2 linked regions of the Homo sapiens genome follow. The protein of the gene in region 2 interacts with the protein of the main gene of each other region in a pairwise test. Each region holds a gene or a part of one and is shown on either strand. Other genes may lie near its edges.

Region 1 (10,789 bases), on a different chromosome or scaffold from region 2:
TTTGTCTTTTCCTTAGTCGTCTACCAAGAATGAAGGCATATTTTTTTTGCCTCAGGTGTTTTGGACTGAATTCTGTCTGATGTCTAAATTCGACTACAGTAATATATTTATTTATGAGCCATCTTTATTAAAGAATGTTACTGCCACCGTTTCCTTAGTTGCCAATTATTTTGTGCATTGTTATTGCTCCTCAGATTTTCTTATTTTGGGGGAGACTTAGGCATAATTTCCTTAGATGTAGATCAAAGCTGAATTGGATAACTAAAATATGTTGCAATTTATGTTATAGAAAAATGGTAAAAATATTCACATATTTTTTATATTTCTACTATTTCAGAATTAATATTTCACCTTTTTTTTTTTTTTTTTTTTTTTTTGAGTCGGCGTCTCCGTCTGTCACCCAGGCTGGAGTGCAGTGGTGCGATCTTGGCTCACTGCAGCCTCCACCTCCTGGGTTCAAGCAATTCCCCTGCTTCAGCCTCCTGAGTAGCTGGGACTACAGGTCCACGCTGCCACACCCTGCTAATTTTTTGTATTTTTAGCAGAGATGGGGTTTCACCATGTTGGCCAGACTGGTCTTGAACTTCTGACCTCAGACAGTCCACCTGCCTCGGCCTCCCAAAGTACTGGGATTACAGGCGTGAGCCACTGCGCCTGGCCAATATTTCACTTTTTTAAAATAAATCTTTTTAATGATAAGACAGGCTTGGGTTTGTCAAGAACAGGTTTCTAAAAGGGTTTCATTATGCATGCACATGTAAATAAAAACCTTTTACAAATCCCACAGAATAAGATACTTTAAAATGGAGCTGTCAAGCAATTTTTATATGTACAGGCAATTTGTGGTTTCAAAAAGCTACTTCAAAAAAAACTTCAAAAAGTTAGTGCTTTTTGATAATTTTTTTTTAAAACCACTTTGTTAACAGGTCCAAAGTTATATGATAAAATGATCAAATAAATTTTTTCGTTATAAATAGTCTTGTTTAAAAGTCCAAAGCGTGCCTCTTAATATTTAGTGAGAGCCCTGTTCTTGTTCTACTTCATCAGTTGTCTATGTTGCTGGTTGACTTTTGGAAGTTTTACACTGAATGAAAGAATAAAGATTGTAAACCTCTAGAAAACAAGTACTTTACTTCTGTGGTCCTTCCAGGATTGAATGAAGGTTCCATGAAAGAGAAACATCTGGAATATGCCTTTTTTTTTTCTTAATAGCTAGTAGAGGGTGAGGAGGGAAATAAGACACTGTAGGATAATGCATGTTTGTGTCAGATCGTAGGAAAAAAATCATGATGTATTTATACTACATGTGCTATTTATATACATGTGCTACCAAACAGCATGCAGCTCTATGTTTTAGACAAAATAGAAGAAGCTTTGATGATAATTATCAATACATGCATGAGAATTTCCAATGTCATGGTTTAAGCACCCACTTCACATACACTTGTAAATTAGCTTCCATGCATTCATAAATGGGGTTAGTGTGATTAGCTTGCCAAGGCCCAGAAGAGATTATATTTATTAAAGATCACATGAAAAGCTGTGTCCTAGGCATCTCACTAGGAATCTTAATTTTAAATAGGTAATATTATCTTATTTATGAACTATTAACACAGTAGAAACATTTATTTTGATAGATTTATTAATGAATGTAAAGATTTCTGTTTTTTTAACATAAGGATTAATGGCCGTTCATTCAATCTAAACCTATTTTGTACACTGAAATATAACATAAACATTGATAGACTTGCCAATCTGTCTTAAGCACTACTTTTAAAATATGAAGCTAAGTATAGTTTTTTGTTGTTATTAAGATGTTTTAGACATGATTAAGTCATTTTATTTTGTCCTATAATTAACCTCCTGAGGTATAATGAGAAATCCATTTCAATATAGAAGGTCAGTTTTGTGCGGTTTTTAGATTTTTTTTTTTTTGTAAAACAAAACTTCCTGTCAGAGTGTGTGCCCGATCGTGCATTTGATTAGATCAGCTGGCATGGCTTCTTGGCAGCCTGGCCCTCACTGCCAGGTTTACTCCGTGTCCACTTCCTTGCAGGGCCCTGACCTAGAGGCCATCTCTCAGCTGTCCCAGCCCTGCCAATTGTTTGAGGTCCCTGAAGCCTTTCCTGATTCTCCCATCTCACGTTATCATTCTCTGTACCCTACAACTTTACCTTTTCATCATGGTATCTGTTGTGTTAGTTATTTCTTTCATTGTGTTTCACCAAAGTTGTTTGCTCATAGGAGCTGGTAGTGTGACGCTGGCCACAGAGGCAATAAATATTGGCATTGTGCTGCCTTCGTTGCTCTACTTGGATGAATTAGAAAACATTCAGAGGAGCTGGGCACGGTCGTGCATGCCTGTAGTCCCAGCTACTTTGGAGGCTGAGGCAGGAAGATGACTTGAGGCCAGTTCAAGGCTGTAGTGTATGATGATCACACCTGCGTGTAGCCACTGCACTTCAGCCTGGGCAACAGAGTGAAATCCCATTTCTAAAAATAAATAATGAACAAAGAATTGGAAAAAGAATGGATAGAGTGTTGATTGGCTTGCTTTTCTCATAGCAGGTTGCTTTTCCAAGCATCTTCTTTCACAACACTCATCATGAGGACATCTTGGGAGCAAAAGTGTCCATACTGATTTGGGGTTACTTAAGTTTTTCTTTGGTCAGAATCCCTCATTTCATCCATATCCTCAGTCCTAGATTAAGTAATCTTAGGGCACACTTACGGCTTCTGACGTTAATGCCACCTTTGTTTCCTAAAGCCCTGATGATGATGGAACTGTGCATGTTAAAGCAGGAAAGGGGAAGAATGTTGTCAGCATATCTAGAAGCCTAGCCCTGGAAAAGTACTTAGGTGGCACAGAAAGCCTCTTTCTGGAAAACCACTGAACTGATAGTTAAATTCAAAAGTCACTCCTAGAATCAGTTTCAGCACACATTAAATTCACTCGTCTTGGATGAAGCCAGTGAAAATTTTAAGACAAAAACAAGATTTATTATCAAATACTGGTCTCTCCAAAAAGTTACATGGGATCAGAATCAGATGTCAATGAATAATTTGTTTTTGTACGTTTTTATAGTTACATGTTATTACTTCTAGAACTCATTTGACTGGTTGAACTAGAGAACCAGAATACAACATGCATTTGTTTTTTTCTATGGTGGAAGAGAAAAGTAAAATTAAAGTGGAAGTTATTAATACTATATATATTCATAGGCTGCTAATATGTACTGCGTTCTTTCCTTTTGTGTTTTTCTTTAGGTGATTGAAGATAGTACTGGAGTCCGCCGGGTGGTGGTCACACCCCAGTCTCCTGAGTGTTATCCCCCAAGCTACCCCTCAGCCATGTCTCCAACCCATCATCTCCCTCCCTATCTGACTCACCATCCACATTTTATTCATAACTCACACACGGCTTACTACCCACCTGTTACCGGACCTGGAGATATGCCGCCTCAGTTTTTTCCCCAGCATCATCTTCCCCACACAATATATGGTGAGCAAGGTGAGTAGATTTTCGTTGGCGTCAGGAGCCGTTGAAACTGATTACAGCGTTTCAATAGTTCAAGGCGGTCCTTTGTTTCTTGTGAAATAAGCATAGTAGAAAAGGATCTAGGTGGTTTGTAAGACTCATGGGGAATTCCTAGCTTCCTTTGTCCTGAATGGTGCCTTGGAAAAATTACTTTGTGGGTTTAGTTCTTTTTCTTTCTTTCAGTTTTCACAAACTCGGCCCCAACCCCCACCTTACAAGATCAAGGAGTAAGGTAGCCACCTTTTATTTTAGAAAAGTGGCAGTGTGACATCGTTCCCATGTCCTGAAAGCATGTTTGTATGTGAGAGTGGCCTGAGGTACAACTGTGGCACATCGTTTCTTTGGTATCCATATGATCTACCAGTTAAAGGGAAATTGAAAAGTGTTTTGTGCCCCATTTCCAGTGTTTGAAGATTGTGAAGTCTCAAGAACCTTTAGGTTTCCTAAAAGGCTCTATGTTGTGATGCTGGCAGAACTCAAAAATCCCCTGGCTGTTGATGTGGCCTTCCTGAACCTGCTTTTAGTTTAAGAGTAGCCATTAGTGCAGCCGCAATTTCACTGATTGTTAGGCAAATACTTACCTGGATATGAAAAGAGCCTCAGAGCTACCAACATTATATCTTTTTAAAGTTTTGACCCTGGTGTTGGTTTAGTCTAAAGGCTTTCTCTATCAAAATGGATACTAAGAAACCAGATAATTGAGGGTAAAATTAGACTTTAGCCTCTAGGACTTTGCAAAGTGATTTTCTTCTGAGTCTGACTATGAATGGAAGCATTTTACTGCTTCAGACATTTATTATGTTGGTTTAGATACATTGTAGAAGAAATGCCTGTTATACCATAGAATGTTTGAGCAAGTTATCACTTTTAAGAATTATATATATATAATTATATAATTTCTATATAATTAATTATTTATTTATAATTATATTTTTATATATATAATTATTCCCTGTTCATCTCACATTATAACTTATTCACAGAAAAAACTTTTTTGAGATGATATTTTAAGTGAAATATATCGTTGTAACTTAGGGATAGAATTTGACTGTATGTGTGTTTTGTTTATTTTTTTTTGTAGTCAAAGAAATTTGACATGATTCAAATTAATCAGGTGCTTTCACAATGTCGTATAAGGGGATGATAGCAAAACATGAAATCAATACTTTGATTTCATAGCAGCATCAATAACTTCCTATCAATTTGATCTTTTTTCCATGCGACACACCAAGAAAACATCAAGTATTGGGGATATACTATGAAAACATTTGGATAAAAACTGAAAAAATTTAGTTAGCTGTAATTTTTTTAATGTATTCAGTGCTTTGACTCAACATGCATTAAATAATTGAGTGTTTCTTAGAGCTTTCTGGCTGTATCTGAGCTCTGATGACATGAAAGGCCTTGGTGACTGACTCATTGCTTGCTGGTATATGTCTGACTTGCCTTATTTTAGCAGTCTGTTAGTAGGATGCCACATGGTTACTGTTTTGTAAATGCTGTCCTTTGCAATTTTAGGCAAGACAACAGTATGATTTAAATCGTCATTAGAGTTAAGCAAAATTGTAGTCTCTTCATTTTATGGTGTATTTGGGTCTAATTCCATTAAAATAACACAGAGCAATAATGTATGCAAATAAAAATGCCTTCATTGATTTCAAATTAAAGCAGTAAAACAAAATCCCTTCCCTTTATAAATAAGCCATTGATATATTCTTTTACCTTAGTTCTTAGTGTGCATACCTAAAAGCAATTTAAATATTAATTTTCTAAACTATAAGAGTTTTAAAAGTTTTCAACATGTCTGAAAAGATTATTACTGCCCATAGTGAATATGTTAAATCTCATGTGTAATACATCGTGGTGTTTAGAACATTTACTATCCTTCTGGTATATTTTGACATAGTTTCTTTGGATACACACTCTCTGAATAGGATTATATTTGTTTTGACACGTTCTCTAGTGCAAACTGGTTCTCTCATGAAGATTTGTTTTTTAACAAAACAACTCTTGTTTATGCTTTAGCTATGTTAACAGTAAGAAACAGTGGAGCTTTACTGTTGAGTAATTGAGACAGCAGTTTTGTTAAATTATGCAGGGTAACCATACATTTCTGTTGTGCCTGTGACAGTCCTAGTGTAGGTCTCTTGCCTTGAAGAAATTATTGATATTCCTTCCTTTTCGCTCTCAGAAGTGTTCAGATTTGGATGGTAATTTATATTGTCACTCCATAGAAGAGGTGACCCTTTTTTCTTATAAAGATGTAAGGACCCAATCTTTATGTTACGCATTGTCATTTTTACTGATACCTAAAAATAATTTTGAACTGATTTAAAAATTTAAATTTAACATAAAGTTTTCCCCTTGAGATCATAAGATTGCTTGCAGGCTTCTATTTTCTTTTGAGCCACTTTAAAATGTGCATAGTAAAGTCAGGTGACATTCTACATTTGTCTTGCCTTCTATTACTCCAAAAGAGAAGTTTGAGACCACAGCTTATTATGTTTGGCACCAGATTTCAGAGATGGCTTTTCTTTATCCTTATACTTCCTCCTTGAACATTTCCCCTGATTCTGTGAGCTTTGATTATTTTAAATGGAAATATGTCATCTCATTATCTTAGTTAAATTTGTTCAAATGTTGGCTCTTTTGTATGCCACAGAAAACTTTGACTGCAATATACTTCCCAGTAGAAATACTATTCTGTCTACAGGGATGAGTAGACTTTTAAAGTAGCTTGATTCTAAGTACATGTTTAATAGGGGTATTTTATTTGTTCTGACTTTTTCATGTATTGCAACTACTGAAAACATATTGAAAGGTAAAAATCAAACTCAGTTATAAATGCAACTAGAATATGAGCTCTTTAGGGATAACAACCTTGTCTTCAGTATTCTCTGTAATATAGGAATTTTTCTGAACACACAGTGTAGTTTTTAATGATTGATTATTCCTTGATTGGTTAGAAACAAATGGGAATGCTTTAAATGTATATCATGTATATGGCATTTTCTTTTTTCTTTTTCTTTTTGAGACAGAGTCTTGCTCTGTCGCTCAGGCTGGAGTGCAGTGATGCAATCTCAGTTCACTGCAACCTCCGCCTCCAGGGTTCAAGCGATTCTCCTGCCTCAGCCTCCTGGATAGCTGGGATTATAGGCGCCTACCACCACGCCTGGCTAATTTTTTGTATTTTTAGTAGGGATGGGGTTTCACCATGTTGCCCAGGCTAGTTTCGAACTCCCAAGCTCAGACAGTCCGCCCACCTCGGCCTCCCAAAGCGTGAGCCACTGTGCCCAGCAGTATTTTCTTAAAAAATATTTATTAGACTCTATTTAGTAATACTTTAGACTTCCTTTATACTTTAGACTTCTTCAGGAGCCAGATCATTTGACCATTTAATAATTTATTATTGAAAATGTAAACTGAGTTTGGGTTTATCATAATCATCCATTTTAGAAATTATACCATTTTATGGAATGTCAACCTACATCACCCGAGAAGACCAGTACAGCAAGCCTCCGCACAAAAAACTGAAAGACCGCCAGATCGATCGCCAGAACCGCCTCAACAGCCCTCCTTCTTCTATCTACAAAAGCAGCTGCACAACAGTATACAATGGCTATGGGAAGGGCCATAGTGGTGGAAGTGGCGGAGGCGGCAGCGGTAGTGGTCCCGGAATTAAGAAAACAGAGCGACGAGCAAGAAGCAGCCCAAAGTCGAATGATTCAGACTTGCAAGGTAATACTCAAGATGTTTGCCATAGAGTGAATTATCAAGACAGAGACATCTCAAATGATGTTTCCACATCTTTTACATGAGAATATTATTTCATGGTGGTTGGTTGTTCTGCTAAGAATATTTGAGTAGACCTTCTTTGATCTATTTCTTGGTAAGGAAATAATATTGCATTGTTTATTTTTTATTAATACTTCATGGCAGAAATACTACATTTTGGTCACAGATGCCATGCAACTTTGCACTTAATAACAAATATTTGAAAATCTTTTCATGTTAGCCTACTTCTGTTGTTTCACTCTCTGAATAGACAGATGTGGAAGAAATCCAAAGATAATTTTTCTAAAAGTGTAGGCTAGTTTAAATCTCAAAATAATTATACCTCATAAACCATACGTAATTACTTCCTTTCTGTAATGAAATCTATCATTGAATCACAGAAATATGTTTCTGTTTAGTTTTGGCATCAGTTATTGTCTCATACCACCTTTTGCCTGTGAATTAAGTGTTCAGAAACTAAGAATAAGATGGAAGAATGAGGGCCACCACATATAGGTAGAGAAACATCAACTCAGAATGGCATCTGTCTTTTTGTAGATGAATCTCTTGGGTAGATCAGTTCATTTGGAGGAAGGTTTATGTGTTTAAATGAAGTTTTGGAGGTAGTTTAGAGAGAACCTATTTTGATGCCACATAAGGAAAAACAGTGGCTATTTCTATAGGCATAGGGAAGAATGACTTAAGTGAGGCAAAAAAGGTAGCATTTGGATAAGGTAGGTGAGTTTATAGATATAAATGACTGGAAAACAAAGACTTGAACAACTTTTAAACATAAGATCAATTATTTCAAGTAGATTCCCTTTTTCATTCACAATCACATTCTCACAGACACAGTCCCAGTTTCTACCTGACTGAGATGCAGTAAGGAATCTGATTATAACACTCATTGATTATAACACTCATTGAATTTATGGATTCCTTACTGCATCTCATTCAGGTAGAAAAAGGGACTGTGTCTGTGAGAATGTGATTGTGAATGAAAAAGATGGAATATGTGTATTTTTGAGTGTCTATGGAAGAGCTTCTGACAAGAGAGAGGAAGATTAGGTAAAATGAAATATCGCCGTCGGCATTTCCCCCTACGTTATTTGGGTGAGTGAATTTCAGCCTGAGAGAGGAATAGTAAGATACAGTGAAATGTGAATAGATCATGTGTTCTTTTAATTTGAATTATGTATTCTTTTCTCTATTTTCCAAACTCTGCAATTATCACGTTATTCTTATAACTCTTAAACAAAACATAAATCAATATCATACAAAAGAAAGCAAAGATTCAAGAGACTTTTACACAACTCTTAAGGGAAGATGCTGGGTCTCATATAAAATAATTTTTAGTCAAATGATACTGTAATTTCTAAGTTTGAAATTAGTTTATTAGCAATGTTACAATTTAACCATGACTATACAAGAACTCATACTAAAAAAAATTATGAATAGATTTTCCTGAAGAGAATTTTTATCCGAAGAAAAACGAGAGAGAATGTATAAATTGTCCAGAGAGCTTACGAGGTTTGAAGTACTTTGATTACTTGACTCATTCTTTAATAATTTTCACCTTGCCTTGCACCAAAACTGATTTAAGGGAAATGACTTAGACACAAAGAAGCAGATAAAATAAATGTAAGCATTAAGGAGCCGAAAGATGATAAGGGAAGGAAAATATTAATAAGATGAAGCAGGGTTCCAGTAGCATTGCTTGATGTGAGCCATATATTTTGTTTTCAGCCTCCTGGTTGTCACAGCAAAAAGGCAAACGTGAATCACATAGTGTAGACGAAGAATAAAACACTTCTTGTTCATGGGGTCCATCAAGTGGCTCACAATGTTTCAGTTGTGTCTGCCTCAAAATGTGGTTGTTGGCTCCTAGGATCCCAAAAGGCTTTTTCCTTCTTTCTCATCCTTACAGTGTATCTCCTGCTGGAGTTTACTGCGGCTGACATCTAAATCTGTGCCCCGGAAACAGACTTCTTAACTGATTCTTAAGTTTCCAGTGCCACCTGATTAATCTAAAACTATACTTAATACTAGTATGATAAACCTAATAGGTTCATATGTGGTTTGCACAAGAGTAGAATATATACCTAACCATAACATGTGACTTGTGTGTGTTTTTTGTTTTTGTTTTTTTTATGTAATGTTTTACTTAGGTTAAGTTGTTCTCATGGCCAGAAGAGAGAAATCTTTTTACTTTTTTTTTTTGAGATGGAGTCTTGCCCTGTCACGCAGGCTGGAGTGCAGTGGTGTGATCTCAGCTCACTGCAACCTCCGCCTCCCAGGTTCAAACCATTCTCCTGCCTCACTCTCCTGAGTAGCTGGAATTACAGGCATGTGCCACCACACCCTGCTAATTTTTGTATTTTTGGTAGAGATGGGGTTTTGCCATGTTGGCCAGGGTGGTCTCAAACTCATGACCTCAGGTGATCTGCCCACCTCGGCCTCCTTCTTTTTACTTTATAATTCCTTTGCCTTTGAGTTAATTTGCTTGAATAATTTAACTTTTTATCACTTACAAAAAACAAATCTTTAAAAAAAGACTAAGTTTGTGCCTGGTCCTGTGGTAAAACTAAGCACATGTAAAAGAAGCAAACAACTCATGTTAATATAAATACATGTATTAAAAAGATGCGGATACCTTAATTTCTCTCTTGAGGTCTAGTTCACTCAGTTAACTATGCTTCAGAAACTTTAAAGCAATAGAGATTCATGGACTCCATTTTAGACCTACTAAATCAGAATCTTCATACCACTTTTGACTTCATGTTTTTTTTTTTAATCAAACCTCCATTGGGGATAATGTATAATCAGCCAAGATAGAAAATTATTATACTATCATAGTAATAAGGATGGTTAACCAAGTTGTACACAGTATGGAATAGGGACTGTATCTGTTTTATTCATCATTCTCTCCCTCCTTCTAGTACCTGACACATAGTAGGTACTCAGTATATATTGTTAAATGAGTCCTGTTTTCTTAATTGCCTTGTTTTCCAGAGTAAGCCTTCTTTTTGAACACACAAAGCTATTGTACCATTTCCTTTTCCTGGAACAAAGTGTTGCATTGCTCAAGGAAACTGCTCTGTGGCTAGCCTCCCCTTTCATTTACTGTTACCTTCAGGAAAACAGGCATGACAGAGGCCCATAGTACACTCTGAGAAATATGGGATCTCTGTCTTCTTGCACTCCCTTGGAGCTAATGGTGTGATGTGAGCCGAGAACAGTTGGGGCTTTAGTATTAGACATATAGTACTTGGCTTAGAATTGGGCTTTGTTACTTACTATTTCCTTTTAGTTTTCCCTGAATTTCCATGTTCACTTTGTAAAATGGGCATTTTAATTTCCATTATTAAATATTAAAAATACCCTTGCTTTAGTTCTTAACACTTTAATATAATGGTAACCCTTATGACTTGAATATTCTTGTCTCTCTCATCTTTAGGACTCCTGTTATTATAGGAT
Region 2 (10,789 bases):
GGTCTTGAACTCCTGGGCTCAAGTTATCCTCCTGCCCCTCAAAGTGCTGGGATTATAGGTGTGAGCCACTGTGCCCGGCCCAGATTTTGCTACCATAAATACTGTTGTGATGAACATTGTTGTATATGAGACTTTGTCTTTATACACTTCTAGGTTTCTAGAAGAACAACAAAGAATTTTGTCAATAGTCTGAGCTGTGTTCTGTGATAGGCAGCTCTGTCATTTATTAGCTGCATGCCTTAACTAATTGCTTAACCCCCACCTGCCTCTTCATTCATATCTGCAAAATGCTATGCTCAATTTGAATACTAATGTCTGCTTCTTAGAGTTATCATGGGGATTAAATAATATCATTTTACTGTTAAATATGAAATATACACTCTGAAACAGTAAGGGATTTATCTGATCACAGCTGGGTCCCCAGTGTCTAGACAGTGCTTTGCATATTATAGAGTTTCATTAATTATCATCATTCTTACCTTGGGAAAAGGCATTGATATTTTTAAGGTTCCTGATTTTTATTGTGACTCTACTTCCAGGGAAAGTATTTTAAAGACCCTCACATGTGGATTTCTGTCAAAATACATCATTGTATTATCCTGTCTCTCAGTGGGACTCTGCCACGTTCCTGGCCATCTGTGCTCACCCCCTCCCACCTGTGTGAGTCCTAACTTTGGCTGATTTTGACAATAGTGCTTCTTTTTTTTTTTCTGTCTGAAATTGTTGATTTTGATCCCTGATCTTCTCTGCTTGATCTCTTTTCATGGATCTTCAAGAAGGTTTTGATTACAAACTGAAGGCCAGGGTGACTTCTCTGTCTCTCTCTCTTCCCTTGACATGGTAGCCTAGGAAGTCTCATATTCCAGAGGCTCTGGCTAAAGATTTAAAGGGGGGTGGCTGGTTTGTACTAGACTTTGTGCAAGCAAGAAATACATTTTTATTTTGTAAACCATTGAGATTTCAAGGCTTATTTGTTTCAGCAGCAGAACATACTCTATCCTGATCAATACCTATATATTTTTTCTGCATGTTGAGTGCCTACTCTGTGCCAGACCCTGAGCTAGATGCTTATTTATATTGCCTCACAATAATAATGTATTGTGAATATCCCTGTTTTAGAGGCAAGGACAGTGAGACTCAGGGAGGTCAAGAGACTTGCCCAATTTCTGTGGCAGAGCTGAGGTTTGAACTAACATGTATTGCCCCCAAAACAGGGATCTTAACCACTATTTTTATAGTCTTTAATCCAGTGCTTCTCAAACTATCATGTACATTCAAATTTACCTGGAGATCCTGTTAAAGTGCCAGTTCTGATTCAGTAGTTCCAGAGCGGGGTCTGAAAATGCATTTCTAACAAGCTCCCAAGTGATGCCAATATTGCTGGCCCATAGACTACACTTTAAGCACAAGAGTTTAAGCTCTCTTGTTTATTGGTTTGAGTACTTAGCCATCCAACACCCACCTCATTTTAAATTGGAATTATCACTCAGTGATAGTGATGAAGGCAGTTTGGGGGTATCCCAGCAGGCAGAGAGTGAGCAAAGTGAGGTTTAGAGAGGCCATGCAGAGTGTCCTTATCTGATACCTACTTTGGGTCGATGGCTTGTGCTCCTGGGTTTGACTGGGAACCTTGGAGTCATTGATGGCATAGGGCTCCTGACAGTCCCTGCAGCATAAACAGAAGATCTTCAAGATCAGGTTTTGGTGGGCTGCTGTTGGAGGCAAAGGAATGAGGGGCATGGGTTCCGGAATCTGAATTCCAGATGCCTATTGGAAATTGACTGTGGTGGGGGTATCATTGGGTCAGCCTCTCCCAAGGCATTAATATAATACTCCTCCCCTCTCCCAAATCTTCTGTAGCTTCCCATGGCCAGCAGATCCTTCTGCCTAGGCCATTTTTTCCTATTCTGTACAAAGTTTTCTTACCCATGGAAAGGAGTTGAAACTTCTACTCTGCCAGCTTTGTCTGCAGGGGTGCCTTGTTGAATCAGCCAGTCTTGAGTTTGAGCCCAGTTCACTGGGCTGGGCTGTTTCCTAAGTAAACATAAGACCGTGGCTGAAAAATGCTAGTCCTTCACCTGTGTTCACACTCCAGATAGGATCTAATGACAGCAAAATCCCACCTCATGCAGACATGCACATAAACATGCTCAGGTTTCAGATAGCTCTGTGTCCTACCCCATGAACAGGTGCATGTTCTTAGGTGGATTCTTTACCCTTTTTGAACTTCACTTTTATCACTTGAAAAATGAGAATAGCAGTGCCTACTTTGCAGGAGTAAAGACTCATATATATGAAAAGTAGCTCCTGTGAAGCTAGGTATATGGTAAGTGCTCAATCAATGGTCATTCCATTTTCCTCCCTTCTCTTTATGTAGCTCACTGGCTTCCAATGATCCCAGCTGGTCCAGGTCCTATGGAAAGGAAGCATATGGACTTGTAGGTTTAAATTCTGGTTTTGCCACTAATTTGCTGGAGGGCTTTGGGTAGGTCCATGCTTTTTTCTGTGTCTCAGGCTCCTCGTCAGTAGTAAGAAGTTAGGCTGGATGATCTCCTCAAGGATCTTTCTAGTTTTGAAGGTCCAGGATTATAAGGCCTTGCTTTAGTCCCAGATCCCTTTATTTGTGTATCAAGTTTTTAGATCTCTGGATACATTCTGTTCTCACTCCCCTTCTTGTGGCAAAACCCTCTTTAAAAGGAAATTCTTATCATGGTATTGTTTAGGCGTCCCTCACAATACCTAATTCACTTCGCTTTGTGAGTTTTGCCTTCATTATAGGCACTTGAGTCCCATTTTCTCTACTGCCATACCCTGGCCTAAGCCACCATCATCTCTTGCCTGAATTCCTGCGATAGCTTCCTGACTGGTCTCCTTATTTCTCTTACCCTGAACTTCCTCCATAATTAATACAAAAGTTGGGGTAGTTCTGTTAAAATATATCATGTCACTCTTCAGCTCAAAACTTCCAAGGATAGGAAAAAATGGGTATAGTAGATGGAGCGATATAATATGGAAGGAAGAAATGGAAACTCAAATAGAATCAAATAGAAATTCTAGTTCTATAAAAACCAGTATCTGAAGAAAATATGTATTGGGTAGGGTTAACAACAGATTGGACAAAGCAAAAGCAATGATCAGTAAACTTGCGAAAAGGTCAATAGAAATTATCCAAACTGAAACAGGGAAAGCAAAAAAGATTTTAAAAGGATGAAGAGTACCCCACTGACCTTGCGGGATGCTACCAAGCTGTATAACATACGCGCGTTACTGGACTCTCAGAAGGACGAAGGGCAGAAAAAATATTTGGCAATAGTGGCTGAAAAGTTACTAAATTTGATGGAAAGCATCAACATAAGTATTCAGTGAGCACCAAACATGAAAAACAAAAAATCACAACGACCGGGCGCGGTGGCTCATGCCTGTAATCTCAGCACTTTGGGAGGCCGAGGCTGGCAGATCACCTGAGGTCAGGAGTTCGAGACCAGCCTGACCAACATGGAGAAACCCCGTCTCTGCTAAAAATACAAAACTAGCTGGGTGTGTGGCACATGCCTGTAATCCCAGCTACTCAGGAGGCTGAGGCAGGAGAATCGCTTGAACCCTGGAGGCGGAGGTTGTGGTGAGCCGAGATCACGCCATTGCACTCCAGCCTGGGCAAGAAGAATAAAACTCTGTCTCAAAAAAAAAAAAAGAAAAGAAAAGAAAATCACACCTAGGCACATTTTAGTCAAATGGCTAAAAAGTAAAGAACAGGCTCTTAAAACAACTGGAATAAATAAACATGAAAGAAAGAAACTGTAAACCTTTCACTTCATATTCCATGAAAATATCCTTCAATAATTAAGGCAAAATGAAGACATTATAAGATAAACAAAAATAGAGAGAATTTGTCTTTAGAAGGCCCAGGCTGTAAAAAATGCTAAGATCGAAGGAAAATGATACCAGATGGAAATTCACATTTACAGAAAGGGATGAATAGGATAAGAAATAGCAAATATGTGGGGGTAAATGCAAACTTTTTTTTTTTTTTGAGACAGAGTTTTACTCTGTCACCCAGGCTGGAGTACAGTGGCGTGATCACAGCTCACTGCAGCCTCAAACTCCTGGGCTCAAGTGATCCTCCTGCTTCAGCCTCCCCAGTAGCTGGGACTACAGGTGTGCACCACCACACCTGGCTAACTTTTGTATTTTTTGTAGAGACGTGGTCTCCCTATATAGCCCAGGCTGGCCTTGAACTCCTGGGCTCAAGTGATCCTCCCACATTGGCCTCAAAAGGTGCTGGGATTACAGGAGTGAGTCACCGCGCCTGGCCAGAAAGATTTTTTCTCTTTCTTTTCTCCAAAATTCAGTGGTTTTGCATATTCCTCAGAAGAAAAACCAAAGTTCTCACCTGGGTCTTAAGATACTCTGTAATCTAATCATCCTTCTTCCCTCCTGTCCACCCACAACCCTCATCACCAACTCTGTCTTCAATTCCTCCAATTCCCCAATTCCATTTGCCCCCCCTGCTGAGTTTTAAAACACAGCAAGCTCCCAACTCAACAATTTGTGCTTGTTTTACTCTCTGCCTGGAATTCAGTTCTCTTAGATAACAACATTCTGTCATTACCTTCAAGTCTTTGCTTCACCTTTTCTAGTGAGACTTTCTCTGTTGTATTTAACATTATAACCCCCTTGCCCAGCACCCCAGCACTTCCTAATCTCTTCCTTGTTTACTTTTCAAACATTTTCTCTTTCTTTTTTCTTCTTTCTTTCTCTCTTTTTCTTCTTTTTTTCTTTTCTTTCTTTTTTTCTCTTTTCTCTTTTTCTTTCCTTCCTTCCTTCCTTCCTTCCTTCCTTCCTTCCTTCCTTCCTTCCTTCCTTCCTTCCTTCCTTCTTTCCTTCTCTCTTGCTCTCACTCTCTTTCTTGACAGGGTCTAGCTCTATGCTCAGGCTGGAGTGCAGTGGCACAATCATGGTTCACTGCAGCCTTGAACTTCTGGGCTCCTCCTGCCTCAGCCTCCTGAGTAGCTGGGACTACAGGTGCATGCCACCATGTCCAGCAAATTCTTTTTTTTTTTTTTTTTTAAGAGAAGGGGTCTCACTGTATTGCTCAGGCTGGTCTTGAAATCAAGTGATCCTCCCATGTTGGCCTCCCAAAGTGCTGGGGTTACAGGTGTGAGTCACCGTGCCCAGCTTCATTTCCTAACACTCTACATAATTTGCTAAATTACTGTGTTGAAGGTCTGCTTCTTCCCACTAAATTAGAAGTCACATGAGGTCATGGATTTTAGCTGTTTGGTTTACTGCTCTATTCTCAGTGTCTAGAGCAGTACCTAGTGCAGTGTGGGAAGTCAATAATTGTTTGTAGAATAAAAATTGAGGGTGTTTGTAGAATAAACTAGCATTTATTCTTGTCTTGAGTAAAAGCACTTGCAGGCCCTGGGGGCAGTAGAGAGGTGGGTGGTAGTTTTTGTGCCAGGAACATCACAAGCTGTAGGACACAGCTTACCTCATTCACATGCTAAGCTTACTCTGATGGTTTCATGAGTCAATTTTAGTTCTGCTCTCTGTTTACTGGTTGGGACTATTTTTCTTCCCTGTCCACTGCAAAGCATATCTATCTTCTTCCCATGTTCCCTATTTCGTGGGATGATCCTATTATTCACTCTGTCTCTAGAGTCAGAAGCCTGCCAGCCTCCTGCCATCTGCTCGTGTTCATCAGTCTTTGAACTTTACTTTCCAAATATCTCTTCAGTCTGTCTGCCCAGCCAATCCTTTGCCATTTCCTTCACCGTAGTGTAAGCCACCATCACTTCTCACCTGGACCACTGCTTAAACTTTCTCATTGGTTTGTTTGCCTCCACCTAAAGCTAGAGTTATCTGGTAGACATGTAAATCCTATCTCTCTTCTGCCCCAACAACCCTCTGCCCCACCAAGGGGGTCCCCAAGTCTGCAGATCCAACTCCTTTTGTGATCACCACTGTTATTCTCTTCATCCTCATCTTCTCTGGGTTGCACTCACCGCCCTACAGCCATAAGAGATGCTGTATAGGCAGCTTCCCCAATCACCTTTTACTGAATGGACCCTGTTCACATCCTGTTCCCTCTACCTGGGATGTTCTCACCTCAATCCTTGAGTCATCAAACTCCAGGATTCAGCTCAGGGGCTACAGGAAGGCATGGGATAAGTTAGGAGTCCCTCCCTTGTGCTCCCACAGCACTCCCCTGCTGGCCCACCATGTTTTCCTGTACACAGCCTGTTATTGTACAGTGACTGCCTAACTCATGGTAAATGCTTAATAAACACTTGTTGAAACGTTGTCTTGTAACTGCCTCTTGTTGACAGTCTGGATACTAGTTCATGAGCTTTTTCCTTTTTCTTTTTCTTTTCTTTTTTTATTTTTTGAGACAGGGTCTCACTCTGACACCCGTGCTGGACTGTAGTGGCACCATCAGGGCTCACTCCAGCCTCATCCTCCCAGGTGCAAGCGATTTCCCTGCCTCAGCCTCCTGAGTAGCTTGGACTACAGGCTCGCACTACCATGCCCGGTTATAGTTTTTTTGTTTTTGTTTTGGTAGAGATGGGATTTTGCCGTATTGCCCAGGCTTATCTCGAATTCCTTAGCTCAAGAGATCTCCTGCCTCAGCCTCCAAAAGTGCTGGGTTATAGGCTTGAGACACTGAGCCCAGCCAAGCTTTTTTCTTTTTTTTTTCTTCATTTATTTCACATGTATTTACTGAAAACCTGCCATGTTCCAGGTACTGTTAGGTGCTGGAGATATAGCAGTGAACAAGACACAGGATAGACAAATGTCCATGGAAGCAGGGACAGTATTTTATTCACTTTTTTTTTTTTTTGAGATGGAGTCGCGCTCTGTTGCCCAGGCTGGAGTACAGTGGCGCAATCTTGTCTCACTTCGTGCTCCGCCTCCCGGGTTCACGCCATTCTCCTGCCTCAGCCTCCCGAGTAGCTGGGACTACAGGCACCTGCCACCACGCCTGGCTAATTTTTTGTATTTTTAGTAGAGACGGGGTTTCACTGTGTTAGCCAGGATGGTCTCGATCTCCTGACCTAGTGATCTGCCCATCTCGGCCTCCCAAAGTGCTGGGATTCCAGGCGTGAGCCACCGCGCCTGGCCTTTATTCACTTTTGTATCCTCAGCACTCAGCCCAGGGATGGGCACAGAATAGGTACTTTATACATATTTGTTGAATAAACACATGAACCTTCTCTGACTGTTGGAAAAAAACTATGCCAAACAGATCTCCTTCCTCCCTTCCACTAACTGATTTTTAACTTTCTGCACATAAGCTGTTCCTTGTGGTTAGATACGATGCGGGCTAGACACATACAGATGTCACCATTGTGTGGATTTTTTGGTCAAAGTGGGGGCACTCACTAGGTCCATTTAGCTCCAATCTCCAATAGTCTTTTGGATCTGCTGCCAGGTGAGGTGTTTTTGTTTGTTTGTTTGTTTTTTTGTTTTTCCCTAGACCTAGTGTCAGTGTCATGGGATTTTTTTTTTTTAACATGATTTTAGCTCTGATGTATTTCATTGAGTTCTCTTTAGTGGATTTATTTCATTTTCCTATAATTTATAAAGAAATAGAAATTTATACAGGCAGTTAGATCTTTTGTTTTGGAGATACACCATTTAGCAAATATCCTTGCCATTAATCTGCTTCGTATTCTGCTACTTGCTTTAGTTTCAGTTGTCTTCATCCACTTATAAAAATGCTTGCCTCACGGGGTTTGGCTTTGTTCCAGACTGCCTTGTGTATGTTGAATGTAGAAGGATGCACTTCATAAGAAAGGAATGGAAGCATAGCTCTGACAAGCCCCCACCATGAGTCAGCCCTGAGTGTCTGGAGTTTTACTGGAGTGGTAATTGATTTGTCTAGAAGAAATTGCTAAAACCTGGACTTGGGTCCCTCTAAACCTTTGTCAGCATGTGTTCTGTCTTGGTAAATCATAAAAGAAGGTCACTTTTTTTTTTTAGCTTATATTCGGGAGTCAGTAATTTTCAGGTTTTTGATCATGTGGCCTCTTTTAGGCTCTGCTTGGTCAAGAAATTCAAGACACTGCACAAGTAGAAACTGTTTATCAATTGTAGCGTGCTCTTTCCTGCTTGTCGTGGTCTCATCTGCATTAAGGTTGTTGCCTCTTCCTGGAAAAACTCCGTATATATACTCTCACTATAGGTACTCTCATGTATTTGTCTTAATAAATGGCAAAAGTTCACTAGATGACTTAGGATTACTGTAGCCATGATGACAAAGTTTTGATGTCAAAAATCAGATTTAAGAGGAGCTCTAGAGAAGAGAGAAGACAAAAATGCCAAACATAAATAGAAGGCTTCTTTGTCTGGAATGCTATGGCCTCAGGAAGAAAAAGATAAAAAAGACCTTACTCTTACTCAAACCTTCTGACACCTGTTTTCTTTGCTTCTGTCTTTCTCTCTCCACCCAACTTGATCTTTACTACCCACGTATACTCCTCTTACTCCTTCCCCTGGCTGCCCAAATAAACTTTTTCAGGGAGCATTTTTCTAGAGAAGAACAATCACATTGCACAACACCCACCTAAAACTTCTGCACTGAAGGTAGATCAAGAGAGGCCGAATTTAAACTCTGAGTAAGAGTTGAGTTGGGTAAAAATAGAATCTTCCCAAATTTCAGAACAAAAGAAAGTTTGTTTTGTATATCCTGTGTAATTCAGGATTCTGTTCGTTACTTATTGTCTTGGACTATCATATTTGTACCAATTAGTTCATTTCGTTGTTGACCTTTAGGCCAGGCACAGTGGCTCACACCTGTAATCCCAGCACTTTGGGAGGCTGAGACAGGAAGATTGCTTGAGTTTTGGAGTTTGAGACCAGCCTGGACAACATACCTCATCTCTACTAAAAATTAAAATTTAGCTGGGCATGGTGGTGTGCACTTGCACTTCCAGTTACTCAGAGGCTGAGGAGAGAGTATTGCTTGAATTTGAGAAATCAAGACTTCAGTGAGCTATAATCATGCCACTGCACTCCAGCCCAGGCAACAGGAGATCCTGACTCAAAAAAAAAAAAAAAAAAAAATTGTTGACCTTCAACAATGGGGAAAATGTTTAAGAGTAGCAGGATGAAAAAGGTCAGAAGATTCAAATAACCTATCTATGCATAATATTTTTAAGCATGGACTTGAGAGGGTAAGAAAAATAGGAAGTATGCCACATGAAACTATTTTAAAAGATTTTCTCTTAAGGGTGGATAGGGCAAAGATTCAAGAATAACAAACAAAATGATGAATCAATAGGTGACTTAATAGACTTCAGGACACTTTCAAAGGACATTCTGGGGCAAACAAAAAGTGTAAGTAAAAGGAGCCCTTTCTTTATGCAAAAGCTCATATCTAAAATAGAGGATTTAGAAAAAATCAATTGGAATGGGAAATTCCATTAGTGTAGATATCTTGATCATTTTCCAAGAGTCCTAAAATGTTAACTAGAAATCGAGATAATCTTTTGACCTACTAGATAAAACAACTGGCCCCTGAAATAAAGACAGGACCCAAATCTCCTCTGTTCTTTAAGAATTTGGAGTCTGTGGAGAACACTTGCACTTACTGTATGCAGAAAGGCCATTAGAAGAACTAATGTTCCATGTCAGAAGGACAGCTGTCCATATCTGTCTACTGAGTCTTTCTGAGGAGAACTTTGCACTTAACATTTTCCTATTTTGCCTCTAAACTCCCAAAGGGCATTGTCTATAAATATAAATGAACAGCTATACTGCTTGCTTGTTGATATGGTTTGTTTCTTATGTGGAGATCAGACTCTTCTATTCCAACTATAATTAAGACTAATTGTTCTGCATGATGAATACTTAGACCATTCCAGTGCATGATTCTCCAGCACCCACGGTGGACTATGTCTTCTTACACAGAGTCTGAAGGGATGAAACCCTTCTTGGGGGTTTAACTACTAGTAGATGAAACAGACTTCTGAGGATTCTGAGTTGAACAATTTAAAGTGCCTTTTTTCCCCTCACCTTGACTGACACAGCAAATCATGTAGCCCACACCCTAGGGTACACCTGACCAATTTAAAATCCTTAGTTTGAGTAATTATGGATCACAGAAACCTTCGGGTTTTATTTTAGCTAATTAGGGGAGTCTGCACCATTGCTAACACTCCCGTTGTGCCTGGATTAATATCACAGGTGAGGTTAATCTATAGCTAAGCCCAAAGAAAAAGCAGCCTGGCTATCTAAGGTAGATGGTCATGCCAGGGAAATCATGGGGCATGACTCCAGAGAGGCTTTCAGATCTTTTTGAAAATACTTTTAATTGTCATTGTCCCTTTTTTTTTTTTTTTTTTTTTTTGAGATGGAGTTTTGCTCTTGTTGCCAGGGTTGGAGTGCAATGGTGCGATCTCGGGTCACTGCAACCTCCGCCTCCTGGGTTCAAGCGATTCTCCTGCCTCAGCCTCCCGAGTAGCTGGGATTACAGGCATGCACCACCACGCATGGCTAATTTTAGTTTTTAGTAGAGATGGGGTTTCCCCATGTTGGGTCAGGCTGGTCTCGAACTCCTGACCTCAGGTGATCTGCCAGCCTTGGCCTCCCAACGTGCTGGGATTACAGGCGTGAGCCACTGTGCCTGGCCTTAATTATCATTGTCTTGCATCATTCAGGTTCTGTTGTCCAGAGAGCTGAATGCTTTTATGTAGCCTCTGGTTTGACAAATGGTGAAACAAATGATTCAAAGAAAAAATGAGAAGAAATGAGGCAGACTGATACTCAAAATGAAAACCAGATCTCT

Evidence for each region.
Region 1: the proteins of TEX48 (region 2) and FNDC3B interact in binary tests that used the Homo sapiens proteins (3 or more experiments, as listed by UniProt).

What each region holds. Positions count from the first base shown.
Region 1 is NC_000003.12:172,244,266-172,255,054, forward strand, and holds part of FNDC3B (fibronectin type III domain-containing protein 3B), read left to right. Parts: intron 1-3,267; coding exon 3,268-3,511; intron 3,512-6,994; coding exon 6,995-7,276; intron 7,277-10,789. UniProt on the Homo sapiens protein: May be a positive regulator of adipogenesis.
Region 2 is NC_000009.12:114,669,794-114,680,582, forward strand, and holds part of TEX48 (testis-expressed protein 48), read right to left. Parts: intron 2,035-10,789; 5' UTR 1,931-2,034; coding exon 1,927-1,930; intron 1,713-1,926; coding exon 1,590-1,712; exon of another isoform or gene 1,463-1,589; intron 1-1,462.